Regions from separate parts of the Homo sapiens genome. Here region 1 is linked to region 2. Evidence: fine-mapped expression QTL. A gene starts in region 2. The other region holds a variant in brackets. All regions are shown on one strand. Distances are between the middles of the regions. Region 1 holds the start of PYROXD1 (pyridine nucleotide-disulphide oxidoreductase domain 1). Region 2 holds the start of RECQL (RecQ like helicase).

Evidence for each region.
Region 1: its variant is fine-mapped to the expression of RECQL in testis (GTEx, PIP 0.95).

What each region holds. Positions count from the first base shown.
Region 1 is chr12:21,428,875-21,440,353 of GRCh38, reverse strand. It overlaps PYROXD1 (pyridine nucleotide-disulphide oxidoreductase domain 1), which reads right to left and starts at 2,699. Exons shown (of 12, transcript NM_024854.5): 1 at 2,540-2,699. The coding sequence starts at 2,623. RefSeq lists enhancers at 2,551-2,740, 2,791-2,870. The variant G/A (reference allele first, on the strand shown) is at 3,285.
Region 2 is chr12:21,497,678-21,509,175 of GRCh38, reverse strand. It overlaps RECQL (RecQ like helicase), which reads left to right and starts at 7,541. Exons shown (of 15, transcript NM_002907.4): 1 at 7,541-8,006; 2 at 9,561-9,621. The coding sequence starts at 9,606. GOLT1B (golgi transport 1B) reads right to left here and starts at 7,387. Exons shown (of 5, transcript NM_016072.5): 1 at 7,228-7,387; 2 at 2,200-2,291; 3 at 615-793. The coding sequence starts at 7,252. RefSeq lists enhancers at 6,039-6,088, 6,322-7,029, 7,030-7,737, 7,688-7,747, 7,888-8,077 and 2 more.

The sequences.
Region 1 (11,479 bases), 69 kb after region 2:
GAGAGAAAAAAAATTAGGACAAATTACTTTAAGTACTGGTATATATGGTTTGGGGTTGAGAATAATGCAATTTTAATAATGTAATTAATCTAGAAAATTAAAAACCCACTGTTCCTCATCTAAAGGTCTCCATTATCCTTGGTCTTGATGGGGCAATGGTGAATAATATTAAACTCTGATACTGAGAAAATAATATTTACAGTAAACACTAACAAAGAACTCCTGAACAAGAAAAGTGATATAAAGAAATATCCTTTATTTACTTCAACTATTTTTTATACCAATTTAGAGTTATAATGCAGAGGATGAGAATAAACTATCTTCCTAATTACCAGTTAAACCAACTTCTATTTATCTTAAAATAATATTTCATTTGTCTTCAATGGGATGAAATTAAAGCAAACCCTCAATATTAAACACTTAGAATATTGGTCTAACTTTCCCCAGGTGCTCTGGCACTCCTATTCTGCCTCTTCCAGTCAGTACATATTGTGGGACGATAAAGCCATTTTAATAATTGCTTCCACAAAATTTAGAGGTATAACTTGTTAATGTTTCATTATTTTCCTTTAGCTACAACCTCGGTCTTCTTCACTCTGTACCTGAAAGCATTTTCTTATCTCAAAGTCTGGTTCCTCGACACCACCACCCTCAATAATCTGGCTTCTATTCCTACTCCATCACTAAAACAGCATGTTTGAGGGATCTATGAATCCTTAAAATCCAAGGGATTATTTATTTTTTTTTTAATGGAGATGGGATCTTGCCATGTTGCCCAGTCTGGCTTCAAACTCCTGGACTCATGCAATCCTCCCACCTTGGCCTCCCAAAGTTCTAAGATTACAAGTGTGAGCTATCGTGCCCAACACCCATGCGATTCTTCTCAGTCTCATTTTATTTGAACTTTCTATATTTGACAATATCATTACTCTCTCCATCTTTCTTTCCTCTGTATATTCTGTAATTTATATCTCTGCTGTTTCCATTGCTAGATGAGGTCCTCAAAACTTCTTTATACTACTGAAATCACCTTCGAATTGGCTCTCCAGTTTCACGTATAAACCAGCTGCCTCTGCCACAAATACATTGTAACTAATCATCTTTCAAGCCTTTTCATATGATCAAGTTACTCCACTGCTCAAAAACATTTGACTACTTGTAAATTCTTGTTAAGTTCTCAGCATGCTAAGACTCCTTATGATCTATGCTTTAAGCTTTACTGCTCCCTGATGATCCATGCTTTTCCACTGGAGATGACATTCTTTTCTTGAATACTTGGTAAACTTTCACTCATTCTTTCATAATGAGATTTTAAAAATACCTTCTTTGATTAAAAAAATTTCCTCTTCCCTAATTCACTCCCTACATACTCCACAGGCACCTCTAAGATAACCGTTGATATCTCTTGCATAGACATACAATATTGTAATATTGTCTCTTCCAGCAGGCTGTGAGTCCCCAGCATGGTATATACCATGCTGTTCATAGTTGAACACTCAGCCCTTAATACGGTGCCTGCATCATATATGTTTACTTAGTGAATAAACGGAAAATACGCATCCAACGATGGAAACACTTGAGTTTCTTCCACTATTTCTTATGACTTCAGTGATTGCTCATGTTTACTTTATATCAACAAAATAATGTAGAACTTTTTGGAATACACACATGTATCTGAATATATATGGTCTGGCTATTCAGTATAATCAAGAAAGCAAGCCCTACATGCATTTAATCCTTCGCTGATTATTTTACAAAACTTTACTAGAAATAAAGTTTCTTCTATCTTGGGAGTTCGAAGTATAGAAAACTTACATATGGGATTCTTTATTAATTAGTTAAGATGCACTAAAGACTTGGCAACTATCTGGAAACTAAACTCAATCACCTACGATAATTAACAAAGGGGGCTGAGGGCCGGGTGCTGTGGCTCAGGCCTGTAATGCCAGCACTTCGGTAGGCGGAAGCGGGCAGACTGCTTGAGCCCAGGAGTTCGAGACCAGCCTGGCCAACATGGTGAAAGCCCGTCTCTACTAAAAATACAAACATTAGCGGGGCGTGGTGGCTGGCGCCTGTAATCCCAGCTACAGGCTGACGCAACAGAAGAATCGCTTGAACCCGGGAGGCAAAGCTTGCATTAAGCCAAGATCGCACCACTGCCCTCCAGTCTGGGCGACAGAGTGAGACTCCGTCTCAAAGAAAAAGAAAAAAAAATAAAAAGAAAGGGGGCTGAATTTTTTGTCTAAATACAAAGTCCTCATGTCTGCTCTGACATTACAAGGATCTGAGCACGGATCAGCCAGCTTTGGTTTCTCGGCTATAATTTGCCTCCCACTCCTCCCTGCGCCTAAGAGAAAGCTAGTGAGGTCATCTGAGGACCACCAAGCAGTTTCTAAAATCTGGGAGCAATAAGTGCGGAAAAGGGCGCAGCAAAAAAGGAACCCGGAAGAAGAAAAAGGGAGGGGGTGGGAGGAAGGCCTCCAGTGCTATCCCCTTTGGGGTCGGGGAAAGAGGCGGAACCGCCTGAGCACCGCCCTACCTGCTCCGCACAAGTGACGCCCGCGATGCCGCCGCCGACCACCACGAACTTCCCTGCCGTCGGGGGAGGGCGCGCTGCCTCCATGCTGCCGGACTCCCAGTGGTTTACTGAATATCGCGGCGGAGCAACGGGACTCTGGACTCCAGGAGAGGAAGCAGCCGCGAGGCGGTCACTTCCGGTGCCTTACCAGATAATCCGACCTACGGGTGCTCGGGAGCTCACACTACTCATCTCGAGTACCTGCTGCCGGCTGCGTTTCGGAAGCAACGAATTGTCTCGTGGTGTTCAGAGCTTTGCGTTACTATTACTACACCTGAATGTAGTTATTCCATGAAAATTTGACAAAGAGAAAACCAAAAAATTAAAAATAAAAAAGTAAAGAAGATGGGTTGCCCAAAGAAGTTTGATAAATTACATATCTAAAGATAGACCAGTGTTCTCACGGGACAAAACATTCATATAATAAATGAATTGGTGTGAAGTTCTCATTATTTGTTTCTGCGAGAAATTAGAGGCACAGATTTTATGCTCTTATGAGTAGAAGGAGCCTTCGGGAACATCCTGACCCCACTCCTGTCATTTTTGTAGATGAAGAAACTTGAGTCTTCTGAAAACCACTTGATTGCCACCGTTCACCTAACAATCCAAGATTTTTGTTTGTGGAAGCACAAAAATTCTTCATGACAAGGCAAAACAATACTACTGAATTGTTCTCTAAAAAATCATCCTTTTCATTTACAACTTT[G/A]ACCTCAGCTAAAGTTTCCAGGAAGAATGTACAGTTGCTTTCCATTTTGTCAAAACAAATGAACATTTCTTAAATTTCCAGTCAATAGCAGCATGTGTGAGGGTTGAATGAAATATTCCCAGTCTCGGTTTTACTGTGAATTTTTTTCGTGGTCAATTGTTTTTAAGAAATTGCTAAATCATTTTTAACTGTTTTTACTATATTATTCACTATTCATATTATTTTACTATTTACTATTACCTTTGCTGTCTCATATAACTTTCCCTAGGAGTTGTTTTGTAATGGTAAGGTATTATCTCTCAAATGGTTCACTCTAAAACTGGTAATTACCCGAGTCCCTTTAATTCTTTAAACACTGAGAATAACCATTATATATTAACAGGAAAGCCTACCACGTATCTAATTACAGGCATTTACTGATACCTGTAAAAATCATTGTTCTTTGATTTACCAAGTTAAATGGTAAGCGGTTTAATAAACGTGTCTAATTCCTGTTACTAGTATAGCAACCAAACAAAGCATTCATTTCTAGGAGGAGGAAATACATTCCTTAAGCCCATTTAGATCTCATCTTGCTTCAGCTTATTTTCACATTATCTCACTCACACTGTGTTCCATTCAGGCCACACTACACTTCCAGATCCCAGGATATGCCATTTTCTTTCTGAGCATTTGCACATATCTTTTTCCCAACTACTTTTCCCTGGCTAACTCATCAACCTTTGGTTTCATCAAGCCATTGCTTCCCCTTTAAGATACTTTATCTAACATCCTCAAGACAGCTAGGTGTCCTCTCCGTGTGTTCTTATAGCACTTTGTCATCCTCTAAATTTAGACTTATCCCACTTTATTGTAAATTCTTACTGCCTGACCCCACCACCACCATAAACTGCTTACATAATCTCAGGGATTATTTTTGTCTCCCTTTGTATCTCCAATGTTTAGTAGGGAGTATGTATTCAACAAAAATGTGCTCAACGAAATAGGAAGTTGGTGGAGCATGAAACTCCCCTGAAGTCCTTCTAAAGATTTTTAGATTCATTGTCCAGGGTCAGGATCCTCTTGTATATTGTGACAGGGGTTTCCTCTTTATGGAAGTCGGAAGGAAGAATGGAGTGGAATTTAAGCTCCCAGGGGAAACGGAAGGAGATCATCGTCTGTGGGAGGGGAAGCAAAGTAGTAGGAGGCTCCTCAAATGTAAAGGGGTAATGACTCCACACTCTCCTTTTTTCTTCCCCTTGTGAAGGCTGGCTTTTTTGTCAAAGGTGATGTAGGGATAAGACCTAGCTGCCTGCCACACTGGCATGAATATCCAACTTTTAGAAATGTCTAAGGGTTAAAGAACTTTCAGTGCATCTCACCTTAATGTTGATTAAATTAGATACATATACTGGATGTAAAGTGGGTTAAAAGTAAGATGTAGGTAACTTGAAACATGTTATCCACAGGGAGGGCAGCAATAGGTACAGGTTAGGAGAAAGGGCAACTGCAAAGAAAACTGGGCACCTAGAAATAAGGGAGGCCCAATGCCAGGAAGCAGCAGAGAAGCAGAAAAGACAGAACTTCAGCTCCCCTTTAGCTCTGGTCAGCAAGCTTAGGAGTGACCTGGTGACTGTTTCTGAGGAGTCAAAGAAATACCAGTGTATTGCTAAATATTATGGTGTATGTTTATGGGTGGAAAAGAAAAGCAGGACTTGGCAAAGAAAGGTTCAGAGAAGAAGTGGAATTTATATTGAATCTCAAAGGCCCATAGCATTTGGATAGGTTCAGAAGAAGATGTGGCAAGTCATGTGGGAAATATCCCAAGAACCAAAGGCTTAGCAGCAGGAATGAGCATGGGAAATACAGGAGATGGTAAAAGGGAAGAAAGAAAGAAAAGTGGTTGGGGAGTTCAAGATTCATGTGGAAAAACTGAAGGAGATAAAGCTATCTTCTTCTATTTCTCTCCATAATGTTGTTACATCTGATTCCCATACCCACCTAATCTCTTGAAGGCCATCCCCAACTTTCAAACTACCATCAAAATCTAGTCTTCCATTCTTCTTCAAGTTGATATCAGAAATGCCTAGAATAGGAGTATTGAGGTTAATTTTCAACTGCAAAAATTGGGAATGAATAATGACATTTCATAGTTGGTGATTAATAGCTTTTGAGTCAGATGACCTAGGTTCAAATGTGGCACCAGCATTTCTTTGTTGTGTGACCATTCAGTGAGTTATTTACCTCATCTGAACCCTAGTTTCCTCATTGGCAAGACGGGTATAAGATCTACTTTGTAGAGTTGTTTTGATGCATGTGTGAGGCAACATATTTAAACTTCCTAGCATAGTGCGTGCCTCTTAGTAGGATTAATGGTTAAGTTGCCTGCCTGTGCCCTGTTGAATAGACTATGTTTCTCTGTCTAAAGGATTTTATCTATGATCATAACCTTAACAAGCCTATTATGCTTTTAACTCCCAAATGTCTATCTCTCATGCAATCTACTCTGAATCTTCAAGCCTGAAATTTCTGAAACATCTTGGATATCTTCTCATTTTTATCTTGGTTTTTGCCAATTCGCTGTAAGTACAGCCTGGATTCATCTTGCACTCGAAACCTCTTCTTTGTTTTGTTAGTTCATATAACTGATTTACTGAACAAGCTGGACTTTATAGGGAAGAAATTAAAGCAAACATTTTTATTTCTCAACGCTTTTCCTGTGAATGTATTTTTCTCCTCTAAATTCTTATTAATTTAGCTTATCTGATCATTCTCAGGTAATAAAAAGTCTGGTACTACCTATTATCAAAACTCCAGACACGCATCCAATTAAAGCCTCACCTAACTACAGGCAACGCAAATTGATTTCTTGTTGCTTTTTTGCTCCAGCTCTTCTCCTAACTAAGAGCTGATGTTTTCAGGGGCTTTAAGATTGGAGGGTGGGTAAGGAGTAAGGAGAGGAAAGAGCCTCACTGTTGTTCCTGTATGAGCATATATATGCAAACCTACCCCCAAAGGCTGAGAGAGCTGAGAGGCCAAAGAAAAACTGACAAATCCAGTTTCTCAGAAAGAGGTATTTAATAGGGACTTACACACAGAAATGATGATTCTGTTACAGTGCATCCCCACACCTGCCCTCCAGAAATTATGTAAGCTTTTAGGATAAAAGATGTACAGCTGATCATGTCTCAGACTTTCTTGCAAAACTCATGAACACTGGGGAGTCTAGATAAGAATCTTAATGAGAGAATTATCTAAGTTACAAGCTTTGTTTCTTTTGAAGGGTTATCTATGCTATGGGCATTGTTTAAGGACCTTGCTGCAGAACACCTTAGTATGCAGGAATCCAACATCAGTCATCATGGCCGTGGTGTCATTCTTGCCATACCGCAGGCTGTCTTCCTATATCTATGAATCAGTGGTGTGGTACAACTGTGAATCTGTGAGAGCTGATTGTTAAAATTTTAGGATTTGTGTGAGCTGATTGTTAACACAGCTATTGTTAAACACTAAATTGTATAAACATAATCAAATAAGTTATATTAAGACAAAGGTAATAAATATTCAAAACTTCTTATTTCCTAACTCTTTTGCTATTATCTCTACTCTTGAGGTTATTTACATCTATTGTATCTACAGGTAAAAATATAATGGTGGGCTACTATACATTTCTTCCTACTGCCTCATTCAGCGACGTCATGTTGATCTTGAAATTGGCCGTAATAGGAGTATTTACACCATGGAAAATGGCAGATTATACAAACCAGAGTTTGATTTATTTTATTGTTGATTTTTTAGAGTTAAAAAGGTGGTGGACAATAGCAAAGACATGGGATCAACCCAAATGCCCATCAATGATAGACTGGATAAAGACAATGTGGTACATATACACCATGGAATACTATGCAGCCATAAAAAGGAATCAAATTATGCCCTTTACACTGACATGGATGGAGCTGGAGGCCATTATCCTTAGCAAACTAACACAGGAACAGAAAACCAAATACCGTATGTTCTCACTTATAAGTGGGAGCTAAATGATGAGAACAGCATGGACACACAGAGGGAAACATCACACACTGGGCCTGTCTGAGGGTGGAGGTAGGAGGAGGGAGAGGATCAGGAAAAGTAATTAATGGATACTGGGCTTAATACCTGGGTGATGAAATAATCAGTACAACAAACCCCCCATGACACATGTTTACCTATGTAACAAACCTTCACATCCTGTACATGTACCCCTGAACTTAAAAGTTAAAGAAACACAAAATAGATGGAGACTCATTTAAAAAAACTGATGGAGAGAATGTTAATAATGAAATTAAAAGAGTGTCATGTCTGTTGTGGTAGATTGTAGTACACTGTGAATAGCACAAAAAAACTGAAGAAATTCTTTTTTCAGAGAGCTGCTATTCAATTTAGCAAAGAACTCACTAATATCAGACAAACAAGTGAAATTGCAACCTATTGTTCCTTTGTTTCACTTCCATCTTACTAGTTAATGTAAATAGAAAAGTCAATCAACATTCAAACTACACTCATCAATTGCTGTCATAGTTTGGGTAATACAAGCAAAAATCAATGAAAGGATTCTGTAGAATCAGCTGGCTATATGGAATTTACAATAAAGAGTATTGCATATTATTATTTGTAAAATATTTGCTATACACCTTTCAATAAAATTTATAATAAACCTATGTATATATACATACACACACACACATATATTTATACATGCAGTTTTTTCAGACAGCCAGTTGTTCAACATTTGCCGGCACAAACATTAGTTATAATCTAGCATCGCTGTTTTCATGGTGTGGCTGATTCCAAATGTTGATTCTCTGCTGGGGTGCTTTTATGGGTACATCAGAATCTCCACATCACTGGGGATCTCTCACCTACAGGTTCTGGGCCTTTCCTTCTCCAGATTCAGTCCCTTTTAAGATGAAACAGGGTCCACAATGGGCTTCTGGGAAACTCACTCATCCTTTGTCCCCACTAGACTCTGAAAGTGCACATCAAGCCAACAGAGCATCTCTCTTTTCTGCTGTCCGAATGTCTACCTAGTCACACCTCTGTGTCTTCAGTGGAATGAAGTATCAGTTTCTGCATCATTCGGACTCCAGGGGCTACCTGTAAAGCTCTCTAAATGGTTCCCTTAACGTCCTCCTCACTTGTGCTGCGGACAGGGCATTGGTGGTGGTGGGGTGAAACACTTTCCCTTCCTCTTCCCCATATGCTTCGTGAGCATGTTGGAGCAGGGAGTGAATGTGATGCACTAATGCTGGCAAAACCAATTTTATAGTCTTTTAGCACGCGTTGCCTGTGTGGTCTAGTACCTTGCGTTGAAGGCATTGGTCAACTTGACGCCTATTATACTGTTCTTAAGCTTTTGGAGCTGAATTAACCAGAAAAATCACATTTAACCCCATGATATACCATGTTTGTTTTATAAATATTAAACTTATACCATTTAGAAAACTGAATGCATTTCTTACACCATATTCCCTCAACTTCAAAGTGTAGTTTCTCAAGTCCTACCAATTCTAAAGTGTTTCCCAGTTCCTTCATTTCAGTTTTGACTGTTACTGCGCTATTTTTGGTCTTCTTCGCCCACTTAGACTATTAAAATGAGTTCCTGATTGGTCTTTGTTCCTCCATTCACTGTCTTTAAACTTATCCTCCATGCTGCCGTAAGAGTTATCTTATAAAAGGGAGATGTGGTTCCTCTGCCTTTCTACCACTTCTGCTTCTGGAACATTCCCAGTTCCCTGAATGCATCAAAAATTCTTGTCTCAGGCAGGGCTTGGTTGCTCACGCCTGTAATCCCGGGACTTTGAGAGGCTGAGGTGGACAGATCGCCTGAGCCCAGAAGTTCAAGACCAGCCTGGGCCACATGACCAAACCTCATCTCTACAAAAAATACAAAAATTAGCTGGGCATGGTGGCAAGTACCTGTGGTCCTAGCTACTCCAGAGGCTGAGGTAGAAGGATCACCTGGGACTGGGGAGGTTGAGGCTGCAGTGAGCCTTGATCGCACCACTGCTCTCCAGCCTGAGAGAAAGGGTAAAACCTTGTCTCAAAAAAAAAAAAAAAAAAAGAATTTTGGTTTCCTTCATTACAGGCTTTCTTGCTCTGCCTATAGAAATCTATGGGTCTAAGAATGGTAAGCTCAGATGCCACCCACCATTCTCAGGGAGAAATGGCCAAATCTGTAGTACTTTACTGCATTGAGCAGTGTTTCTTGTGTTAAAGTTGGTGTGTCCTTATTAGGCTTCTTTGAGAAAGGGAATGTATTTTATTCACCTTTGATTTTCTTGCTTGTGGCCCTAATCCCAGCACTTAGCACAGCAATTTAAGTAATATTTATTCAATAAATGTTTCTTAAGTCTTTATAATTAACATAGTAAGCACAATCTTATAAAGACCGAGGCTTCATAGTATGGCTGAATCTACAATTGTGAAACATGAATTTGCCTTATGAGATACTGCTGTTCCTTTCTCAATAGTTTGATATGATATTTTGAGACCAGGTTGTTCTGTTGTTCTAGGTAGATAAATGTTACAGTCACCCCACAGTATCAGGAAGGAACTCACAGTATCAGGAAGGAACCCCCATCCAAAATTTGATTTGGATGTGAAGATTAATGATCACACACACATACACACACACACACACACACACACACACACTCACCCCATGAGGGAATGAAAAGGCTTATTACTTACATAATGAGGCTTTCTGGGGAGAATAGGACAGGATTATAAGCTGATCCAAAAATAGCTTGGAGAGCAGAGAAGGGTGACAGGCCCTGTTTTTAATGAGATTAGGTGATCGAGCTGGGGTGAGAGTTCTGGCACATACAGGCCAGTCCTTGTATGGCTTGAAAATCACGTGGGCACCAAGGGAGGGGCATACTGAAACCTTCTCAGACTGCCCAGATGTGGGGCAGCAAGGGACAGGGGAGTCGTGAGGCCTGAAAGCTTCCAGCAGTCAAACATCAACAATGGAATCAGGCTCTTTATTACAATAAGAGGCTTTCCTGCTGGGTTTCCAATGCTGTTTACTCGGTTTATAAAATTTCTAAGCTCTTCACAAGCGGTACCATGGAGCTTCATATTTCAATTTAAGTTTCAAACCATATCAACAGGAAATACTCTTATTAAGTTGTAAGTACACAAATTCCAAAGCCAAATATAAAACCTTTTTTATTATCCGCACCTCGTTTCTATAACTTTTGAATCATGATGAAAACTTCTAAAAGATGTCCTTCATAGTACGAAATAGTATAATTTGCATGTACTTTTCTGTATCCTTTATAAAGAAATAGATTTATAACTTTCATGCTGTTTTTGAATAAAACATTAGTACTTATGTTTCATGGCATTCATTCATTAATTGCTATGATTTCCATATATAAAATAATTGTGACAGCAGTTGAAAGAATTATTATTTAATGATCTGAGGCTTAATTATTTTCTATTTAATACATCAGGTAACATTTTAACATCAGTTACATTGAAGATCAGGGAAATTCAGATTTTTTTTTCATAATTAAATAAAATCAGGCCAGATATGGTGGTTCACACCTGTAATTTCAACACTTTGGGAGGGAGGCTGAGACTGGTGGATCGCTTGAGTCCAGGAGTTTGAGACCAAACTCGGCAATATGGCAAAAGTTCGTCTCTATAAAAAACACAAAATTAGCCAGGCATGGTGGTGCATGCCTGTGGTCTCAGCTACTCCAGAAGCTGAGATGGGAGGATCACCTTAGCCCAGGAGGGCAAGGCTGCAGTGAGCTATGATTGTACCATTTCACTCCAGCTTAGGTGACAGAGTGAGACCCTGTCTCAAAAAAAATTAAAAAAAAAAAAAACTGTTTTCAGGCTAGTTATTATACTAAAGAAAAAGGAAGAAGCAACACTTTCTACTCCTATTTTTGTTGATTAAAATAACTTGTGATTTCTAAAAAATAAATTAAGATGCAAAGAAAGTACAGCATAATTTATTCGTAATGAGTAAAATGTTAAATTATGGTATCGAATGTGGCTAATTTATTTCAGTTGACGGACAGTACCGAAATTAAAGATTTTTTATCTCTTAATTTTACTTCTTTTAGAAAGAAAAATGAAACACATTTGTTGTTTCAAATATTATTGCAGTACACATTAATTTTTTTAAGTTTAAACTAACCCCAAACATATGTATATGAACA
Region 2 (11,498 bases):
CCGCCCACCTCGGCCTCCCAAAGTGCTGGGATTACAGGTGTGAGCCACCGCACCTGGCCAAAGGTATTTTCATATAGATATATACACATACTATTGTTTATCTGCTAACTGGCATTTACAAAATATTACCTGCTCAAAATCTCCCATAGTAGTGTATTTGGTAAACAATCTTCTAATACGTATATGTGCTAAATAAATTTCCATCAAGTAGCAGTAGCTATGAAGTATAAGATTCTACACACCAAAATGCTGGATCTATCTATCTATCTATCTATCTATCTATCTACCTACCTACCTACCGATTGATCGATCGACCGACCTACCTACCACTATTTAGTTGATACAAATATCCAACATAAAGATGGTGCCTTAAAATGCCAATAAAATAAACTTTATTGTGCTGACAAAACAAGATAATTTATACCATTAGGCAATCATTCACATGTGATAAAACATTTTTATAGTTGCTTCATCTAAATCTATAAGATTCAACCTAAATAAAATTCCATTTAAGGAAATGATCATCATCTTACTCCAACTGATGCAAATATCTGAGTTTTTGTACTAACTATCTGACACACTGATTTACTGAAAGAGACAATAATATGCCTTACCTGAACAAGAGAAAAAATCCATAAATTTCGAAGATCATGCCTATCAAAGGCCAACCAATAAGGACTACAAATACACCACCCAGAAAAAAACCTGTAGCTTTCATTTTATGTTTTTGGAAGAAGAATCTGAATGTTCTTTCTAAACCAATTACAAAAGCCAAGCCGGCTACAAATAAAACCTAAAAGAGAAAGAAAATACAACACGGAAAAGGTAATTAAACACAATGCATAAATTTTAAACGTAAAGTCAAAGCTAAATATAAAAAAAGAAGCACATTTGTTTGGCTTTTAATGTGGGCAACTGGCCAGACAGAACTGTAATGTACAACCAAGCAGCAGAACCAAGGAGTGGGTTATGCATTTTAAAGTTGTAGCTTTGTTCCACTTGTCTCATTCCTCTTCTATCTTGATTAAATGGAGAAAAAGAGAAACAAAGAAAGATTAGACGTTACCAAGGGGCATCTGTGTCTGCAGTAGTTTTCCTAGTTTTAGCTGGATGAGGAAGGCTTAGTCAAGCAGATGAGTTGGCAAGGCATAAAGAGGAAAGCTGCCCATAAATATGTCACCCAAGGGTATTCCTCTTGGTTCTGAAATATTCATCATAGGCTACAGGAGTTTCTATGGATGGGAGAAATATTGACATGGCTAAGTTGATAGCAGAAGAAACAACGTGAAGCCAAGAAGATTCTAGTTTTATAAATTCTAGAATATCTGGTGGCAGCAGAAATAAAAATACAACCATGTGTTTTCAAATATTTTGAATGTATTCTGTGGACAAGAAATGGTGATGGATTAAGAGCTTGCTTTCCCCAGGTTTTCTTTCCAAATACTTGCCCTCCCCATTAACATTCTTTAGTGAAAAATATTTCGCACAAATACATATTAAGCCTAATGGTTAAGCTTCATATTCTAGGATACTAATGCTATTATCATTTATTAAGACATCAATTTTGAACAATTTTGCTATTCTTTATCTTTTCCCATTTCCAGTTAAAAGCCCAAATATATATGTGTGTGTGTATATATATATATACACACACACACACATACAGTGTCTTCACTACCTTAGAAGGGTTATTATTTATTTCTGGATCATAACCTCCACACATGAATAGCATAGTACACATTCCAAATAAACAACATAGATCCCTTTCTAAGCAAGTCAACCATTAACATAGAAATATATATTTTTAAAAAGGTTAAAAAAATCTATCTTATGCAGCTGAATCAAATGTGAAGTCTTGGATGTTTAAAGTAAAAATACTTTAGTGATTTATCAAGACATGAAACTATCAAGTCATCTATTTTGAACTCCTATTTAGAGGCAGCCTTCATTTAATCTATTGTAAATCTCATGACAAACACTTAACAGAGTAGTTATGGAATTAGAAAACCTCATTAAGTGTTTACCTTTTATTTAAACAGAAAGCTGACAGGTTTCATTCCTGATGGAAATAGAGAATGTAACAGGAATTACTTATGAGTAATAGTGAATTATTTTCCCCAAATTTAATAGCAGATAATAATTCATTCGTAGTTAAAATTTCCTTATAAATTTAGTTAAAATATATATTTAAAAACTCACATTTCCAATAGCCAGTAGTGCTTTGTCAAAAAAGAGAATCATTCCAAAGAACAGGAAAAACACTCCAAATCCTGTTAATCCCATTCCAATTTCTGCAATATAAGGTATATGGTTAAGGGTAGAGAAAAATTAAAGTCACATTAACATCCCTGTAAACTAAGAAAATTTTCCAGTTTTCCTTTCATAGGTATAAGAAAACAGGTACCCAACATTGCAGGTTAACTTCATAATGACATTTATTTAGCTCTTATAACAAATTAATTATCAGCAAATTATTTCAAAATTTAAAACATGAATGAAAATTTCTAAGCCTTATATGGGAGATAGCATTTCTCAGACATAGCTATAATAAAAAAGATAAATCGGGATTCTAAACCTTTGGTTTTAATATGTAATTTGTTTTTTTCCTCCTGAAAAGCTCTCTCGCATCAGACATAAATGTATAGGTTTCCTTAATTACTTATCTCCTTTCACATTCTATAATTATTATTTAAATGCACAATATCTGTAGTTCTTTCTTCCTCTTAAAATTGATTCCTTCTTTACTGCATTAGAAATGTTATGGTAGGTCCGCACAATCAATATCCTTTATCCAATTATATACTGCTTGTCACAATGGCAACAAGAAATATTTCGAAAATCATGGTACCAGTATTCTCAAAACCAAATTTTCAGAAGGTCAGGCATCACTTTTAATTTCTTGATTACTTATTATGGACTTATCTACAAATTTACCTAAACTATAAATCTACTTAAATATTTGGTCTAGAGTCCTAAAATCACCTCTCCGAAGTTTCAAAGAATACTGTTTTACCTAATATTAATATTCTAGGTTTTTCATGTTTCATTAGTTTCATTAAAAAACAAAGAATTGTTGATCAACTGCCAGATGCAAGGAACTGTTCCAGGTACTGAATATACAGTGGTAGACGAGGTGTAAGCTTTAAAGTCTATGTTTATCTTGTATATAAAATTAATACTTTTATTGACTGTGCATTCTCTAGGTCTTATTTTTTTAGTATGAAAAGTCTTAACTTCTAAGGTGACAGATGTACTCTTCTATTAATGTTATAAAGCACAATTCACTAAGTTACCTCCTTGATCATTTTAGTTTTGATTCTAGAAAATAGCCATTAATCCGTAGTTTAGTTAGAAGCACAATCTGCATACAGATGAGTCAGAGTAGAAGCCACCGTATTTTTAGAAGCACAATTTAAAATACCCTATCACTGATTTCTGATCTATTGCTTAACTTTTTTGCCTCAGCTCCAGAAAGCTAAAATCTAGGTCACAGCTACTTAAAAAACTCTTAAGTCATATAAAATGTTCTGATAACTTGAAAACTTTTATCAACTTTAGCTTTTTCTACATTCCCCACCTGCTCAATTTCCTGATAACTAGTGTCTTCCATTGCAGACACCTTTTGTTCCCAAAGTTAGTCTAAAATAATTCAGGTACCTGGTCTATAAATACACCAGTTAAGTGAATTCAACACACATTCCTATGAAAATTTGAGGCTGATACTTTCATGATCAAAGGCCTTAAGAGAATTTACCAAATTAACTATTTGGATAGTGGACATAATTTCATAGAGGAAAATATGGACAAAAGAGCAAGTAAAATTCTATTAAATAACTATTTAGTAGTTAGGATTAAACATCGGCAGCTTTGTTAGTTGAAGATGACTAATTTCTATCATTTCACAAATAACCTTGATGATTACATAAAAATTCTGAGATGTTTTTAGAAAGGAAGGTATATGGAAAGACACCTACTATGTACTGAGAATTTACCACGAATTAGGCCTTATGAAGTGCTTCACATACCTTATATATAACTTAATACTTCCAATACTACTGGAATGCAGGTATAATTACATCTTTTTAAAGATGGAGGAAATTGAAGTTTAGAGAGTTGACTTAAGTTGCCTAAAGCCACACTTCTAGATAAGCATTCGAACCAAGGTCTTTTGAATCCAAAGCTCATGTGCTTAACCATTAATGCCATACCTCTTCCCACAGAATTTTTATTTTTTAGGTTAAAGGTGTTTGGTTACATGAAACTCAAGGACACTGGAGTATTCTGAACTTCTGGGGGACGCATCTTTTAGGGGATTCAAGTTTAATATTAGCTTGTTATCTAACATAGCCAAGTAGAACTATTAAAAATTAACTGCGGTCAAAAAGGCCAATCTCTGAGTATGGTTTACCGTGTTATGAAGTGTTTATACAAAAATTTTATAATTTCTTTAACAAAATTGTGAGGTAAAAGGTAGCACTGGTCCTATGGTTCATATGTGCAACCATGGACCTAGAGGTAATTCAGTAACTTGTTCTTGATCATAGAAGCAGCAAAAATGTGTGTGTGGGTGCTGGTGGTATGGAGGCAGGTACAACAGTCTGTGAAGTCAGCATTCAACCAGTCTTCTCACTCCACAGACAATGGTCCTACAACTACAACATGGGAACCAAAATATTCCACTACTTTATCCAGTACAGTCCAGCGGGAGACATTGCCCAAAACATCTTTGCCACAACTGGTACTGGCAATGACATTGCCAAGTAGCTCCTGATCCACACTGGTCAAAAGTCTCAAATTGGCCTCATTGTGCCTTTTTCTCACCTCCAGGATCCCCCTTTTCCCTATCCGTATGCATTCATAAGCCCTCTGGCTATCAAAAGCCTTGCATAGAGCTGCCTTCTTCCCATCGGAATCATATCCAGTAAAACAAACTTATCTTCCTTCACTCCTCCCACATGTTTAAAAAACTGTCCACAAGTTAAAAAAAATATAAAAACAATTTAATAAAACGAATCTGTCTAACATAAGGAGCATACTGTGGAAATTGTATAAGGAAAGACACGCATAATCTAATGGCAAACACTGTTAGCATTTTGATATCTTATTCACAATTTTTTAAAAGCAGCATTGTCTCTCTTACCATACCCTTTGAAAAACAGAAGTCAAGCAAGAATTCAATTGAACATTAACTGTACTGGAGAATGCAATTATCACACTAGGCTTTTAGACAATGTGATGAAATGAAGATTTAGAGGCAGCATGCCCCTCCTCCGCCCCTCTGAATAAGTCTTGTCTTTTTTGGGGCGGTGAGGAAAGTCCTAGAATGCCTTAAAATAATCATGAATTTCCATTTATTCTACTCTGAGCAGTGCTTGGCCACTCTCTAAAAACCAAAATCCCAGAATAATCCTGACAAATCACTTGAATGATGGCCAATCCCTGCAGTTAAACACACTCACACACAAACACAATTTGAAATCCAAAATGCATTTGGTTCACTAATCGTTTTATGTTTCAATCCACTGTTTCACCTAAAACATGTGACAAGTGAACAGCAAAGAGTAAAATTTCATTGCCCTCACAAAATTTAATGAAGTGAGGAGAATGCTTCTCAGGGAGAATGCCCATAGTCCAAACCCACTCTCTTGTTTTTATAAAGCAGGCACTCATCACTATATTAAGTCTTCAAAAATATAATTTCTATGCACAGATTATTCTCAGATCTCAAATAAAGTTTATATCAAGTCTTCTTAGGTGATAGTGGGGTACAGTGCAAAAGGTTTCTGAGCCAGCACACCTGGGATCAAGTTTTGTTTCTGTCACTTTTTCTTTGACCATGCACTCAATTTCTTTTGTGCCTCATTTAACTTATGAAAGGGGCATGCTTCTGTGAGCCTTACAGGGCTCTTATAAGAATTATGCATAATGATTCACATGAAAGCACATGGTTAACTGAAAGAAAATACCTTTATATAATTGCCAGTAATTATTATTACACTAGATTCCTATCCCCTCAAGACTACACTTTTATTTTCTTTGATCAGAACAGGCCAGGCCAATGGACCAAAGTGGGCGGCAACCTTGGGGCAGGTGGCCCCAAGAGGCAGCCCCAGTCCAGCCTCAGGAGGGAAGACAGCCTGATTGGGGGGTGGCAGTGTGTGTAGGAGGCCTTAGAAGCTCTGTGAAGTTGGTCTGCCATGACTTGAATCTCCACAAGAAGACTCCACTTTAAAATAGGGCATTTTAAATAAACTTCTATTTTTCACTTCAATTCACTGTTTAAGTCTTAAAATATTGAAAATCTGAGTTAACTGGAGTGAAATGAAAGGCGTGGCAGATAAAGCAAAGTGAGACAAAAAGAGACTCTTATGAACATCAAAATATGAGGTACAGAGCTTGGGCAGACATAAATACAAAAATTATTAATATTAACAAAAAGCAGTAGGAAAGTGGAAATATTATAATGAAAGAAAAGGAAACCGATATCAATGCTAGCTTTAGAGATGAAATAGGCCTGGAGAACTCTGTGGCAGGCAGAGAGCGATGCTAAAATAATAAAACAAGCCACAAAGCACAATATACAATACTAACGAAATATATCCTTTAATGGCACACAAAGTGGCTTTTCTCTACTGCTTGAAACTTTAGCAGGTAGAAAAGTGAGAATGTTTCAAGAGACTTCTAAAAGGTTGCTTACAGTACTGGCAAAAAGCGAATATTCAAAATGCCACATTTAAGCGTAAGGACATTTTCAAAAAGAGCCTACTGTAGGTGACATTTAAAATACCGCCTCCCAAATAACCAGCCAGCCAGGGACTTGTAGAGGACCCGAAGTGTGTCATGCGCATAAACGATCCCGAGAGTGGGCCGCGGGCACCACGCAAACTTTCTCTTGTGGCAAGCCCCTAGAACAAAGCGCCCATCTCACTGGGGATGAGGAGATCAGCGCGACCCTGGAATGAGACAGACTCTGGGCTAAAGCTCCCCTCCCAACATAGGGCGTCCCACCCTGCCCCACAGACTCTTCTCCCAGGTCAGGTCCGCCAGTCCAAGTCTAGCCCCGGCATCCCGAAGGCAGCCCCTTAGGGTCCCAGCAGCCCTAGCTCTGTCTCGCAGGCCACCGCCCCCAACCCAGAGCTTCATTCATTGACCCCGGCGGAGGGGCGAGACCCAGCCGGGCGATGGGTGTGCGCGGCTCGAGGCGGGGGCCCCGGAGCAGGTGCTTACTCTGCGTGTCCGTTAAGGAGATCATGGCTGCAGTGGTGGGGACAGCGGCGACAGCACCTCGGAAAGCCCAGGGTGGGAAGCTGAGTCGGGAGAAATGAAGCCGGGAAACAGCCCAGGCGAGAGCCGCCACGTCTTCCGGAAACACGCAGCCACCCTCACTGCCGCTTTAAGAGCGCTTCCTATTGGCGAAACCTGCTTCCAATCTCAACCAATAACTCGTAATGTTGTTCGGTGACGCGCATGGTGACCACACCCCTTGACCAATTAGAGAAGGGAGTTATCTGTGATTGGCTGAACGGACCGACCCGGAAGGGTGGATGCTCTCAGCTGGCTGGCGGGAAGATTTTACTCCCGAGTAGCGGAAAGATCTGCTCGAGGCCTGGGTGCTTTGGTGTCGGAGATCCGAGAGTCGGAGATCGGAGAGTCGGACACAGGACAGTCGGACACCGGACAGTCAAACACCGGAGAGTTAGACCGGGCTTCTCGGTGGGGAGAGGCTCTGGGATAACTACTGTTACAGCTTTGAAGGGTCAAGGGTGTGCGCTTTTTGTTTCATCCTTCCCTTTCCTGCTGCAGGGCGAGGCCGGTCTGTAGCGGATCACTTCCTTTCGCCCACACATTGGCGGAGGAGAAACCGGAAAGTTAATCACTGCCCTGCTCTGAGAACTCGGGCCTTTAGGGGCACGTTCGCCTGCTGACCGGTCTTCTGATCTCCCCATTCTTTTCCATGCAGGAGGATTGGCCACCAAAGCCTGTTTATTAGCAGCTGCCATTTGTTGGTAAATACTACTGGGGATGCTTCTTCCACCCCCTGCTTCACAGTAGCGGAAGGGCGGGCGTTATTAATATTAAATTACTATTGCCTCTAAATGCAGGTGGCGGGGAGAGAGAGGATTTAGCCTATGGTATCTCAGTGGCGTTTCCTCCAACATTGATGACTGGCTGTCACCCTGTAACATTCTTCCTGTGGATGCCTAGCTTATACTGCTGAGTGACAGACCTGCTGTAGTTCAATTTCTGGATACATTTTATGTTGAGATATCTTTTGCTGTTAAATCACATCATTTTGGGAAGGAGCAGTCTTTTAACCGCATAATCAAAGGAGTCATTTAAAATCGTGGGGGAGAATTGGATATAGACTGTGTCTTTTCATAAGGGTAGAAACAGCCCCTGCTACCTTAGCAAACCTGAGCCCTCACTACATCAAGGCATTTTCCTGGGCTGTGCGGATACAAAGGTGAAGAGATTGAACCCCAGCCCTGCTAAAGGACCTTACAGTCTATGGAAGGAATGTTACATTTTCATTACGTGAAGAGATGTTTGTATAGATCAAGAATTAGAAATCCTTGGTTTACTCTCCTATTTAGCCTTCTTTTAATGGTGTGGTTATTCCACATTCTTTAGCAAGGCAAAAAAGAGTCAGCCTATCTTTCCGGCCTAGTGGTGGCTTCAGAATTCTGTGTAGAAAGGGCGTAAGGTCAGCAGTCTAAGGATAGGTGTTGCAGAAGTGACTTTTGGAGAGCATCTTAGTTTTAGAAAATGTCCATATTAGAGAGATAGAAGAGGTGTTTTTAGGATTATGGGGAATTTAAAGTTTCTACTCTCCAGCCCCATTTTCCACTTGTCCATATGCATGCTTAGGTTTTAGTCATTCATAGATACTTAGAAATCATTACAAACCATTTTCCCCTCCCCCCACCTCTAACTTAGAAAATCTAGCTTTTCTGTAGAATACCAGTTTCTCTTTTAAGATTGGGCTTATATTGTAATTCTTTAACGCAAGGGCTCAATAAAATGTTAGATGATTAATTTTATTATTTATGTTGATGTATTTTGCTTAATCTGGTACATTTGAATCTATCCAACTTATTTATAAGATTGCCATCCTCCCAGTTTTACAGGTAGGGAAAGAGGCTTGGAGGAACAGCATATGCAACTTTGCCTAACATAGTAATTTAGTCACATAGCAATTGGTGCTAGACCTGTTGAATGTTTGCTGTTTTTTGTTACATCACTTTGTATCTTGTGGATGTTTGCTGAGTGTCATTGCTACTGTATTTGTCATGTATACGTTTATGTGACTTTGGACACTTCTCTGAAATCTAGAGAGTTAGTCGTTCTGAGTGTTGTGGGTTATTAAGCTGAAATATAGAGTTTTCCATAAAAAATTAGTGTCAAAAGAACCATGTGGTTCTTATTTGAAAGGTCACTGCAATATATAATTTACTTTCTAACATTTTCCGTGCTTAGGAATGACAGATTACTGTTGAGTGAACATCATTAATAGTACTATTTTTAAAAACTTGTTGTCACTGTTGTGCTTTTATTTTTAGAAAGAAATTTGGATTATTTTAGAAACAAATTTGGAAAGAAAAAGAATGGCGTCCGTTTCAGGTTAGTAGCAATGATTACATTTTCTTCTTCCTTCTGTTCTATTTCTGTTTGTATGATATTTGAAAAAGTTTGTTTTAAAAATTCTGATTATAGAAATGATTTTTTTCAGCTTTTTTATTGAAGTAAAATACACATTACAAACTTTGCCATGCTAACCATTATTAAGTGAATAATTCATTGGCATTAAATGCATTTAGACTGTTGTGCAGTCGTCACCACTATCCATCTCCAGAGCTTTTTCATCTATCCAGACTAAAATTCTATACTCATTAATCCGTAACTTTCCATTACTTCTCTTCTCCTAATCCCTGATAGCCACTATTCTACTTTCTGTTTCTTGACTATTTTAGGTACCTCATATAAATGGAATCATATAACATTTGTCCTTTTGTGTCTAATTTTTACCTTATTTGTGTCCAAATAAAGGCAATAGCGGAATCATGCTTTTGCCTATTTCTCTTACTGCTGAGTATACACTGACCCCTTCCCCAAAAGAGCAGGTACAAATTATCTTTATTCGTCTTTGGGTGATGCTCATTTCTCTTCTTGCTGAATCATGTCCTCCTTGGTAATACTGTAATGTATCGGAGAGGGACCAAATAAAAGGAAAAACCCAAACTTGGTTTATATACAAATTTTAAAAAGCAAGAAAGACTTATAGCTATTACAGTTCTTGTTTTTCAATTGGTCATGTGATCATAGTTTGTACTTTATAACTGCCTTCTTCAACTACCCATTCTGTATTCCTTGGTTCTCAGTTGGTAATGGGTCTTTGCTTGGTGGGGACTACTTGCCTTAGTAGTTTCCTATATTTGGTTATTATAGTTTTCAATTAACTTTAATCACAAGGTAAGGGAATACTGAGAGGTGCACTAGAGGATCTTCTGCTTTCCAGACATACTCTTCCTTATCCCTATAGTGTAGTAGCTATCTGATTTCCCCTTAATAGTCAGGATCACTTACCCCAGCAAGTATAGTAATCGCCTTCTTTGCCTGTTCATTTGTTGGCATGAGGAACCCAAAGTGGCCAAGTGGCAGTCAACTTCCAGTTTAATGGAACTATTGCTTTTTCCCCTGGTACAAGCATTTCTTTCTTGGTAACCAAGACCTCTAGGCCAGCAAGAGTCCGATGTTTCAAGGATGGGAAGCAAAAATTTCACTAGCGGATCACTAAGGGTAATAGAAGAGCCACTCCCATTTCCACCGCTGATTCCCGTGAATCGTGGCAATGGGAGAAACAGCACTATTCACTGATGTATAGCATGCCATATCCTGGAGGCTACTAGTCCAGCCCTTAAAGTGCTGATACCCAGCTGGCAGCATAATTGAGTCTGCAAAATGCCACTCCATTATTTTCTCAGGCTAGCTGCTGCAGGTTGTTGGTGAACATAGTTAGACCAGTTAATATCTTGAACATTAGCCTTCTGTTGTGCTTTGTTTGCTGTAAATGAGTTCTTTGGTCAGAAGTAATTTGGTGGGGAATACGATGACAATCAGTAGGAATTCCGTGAATTCCTGGATGGTGGACATGATAGAGCACTGCAGGCAGGTATGGTAAATTCATATCCGGAGTAAGCATCTGTATCAGTGAGAACAAAGTGCTGCCTCTTTCATTATAGACGGTTCCAATGCGGTCACTTTGCCATCAAGCATCTGTCTGTCCCCACAGAGAATGGTGCCTCCATTGGAACTCAAGGTTGGTATGAGCTGTTTGCAGGTTGAGCACTTAGCTCTGGATGTAGCCAGATGGGTCTTCGTGAGTGGCAGTCCATGTTGCAGAAGGCACTTTGTTCTTGACTTCGTTGTGCAAGGACAAGTGTGGTCAATGTCCAGGTCATCTTGTCTACCTGATTAATTATGATTATACTTTGTCGAAG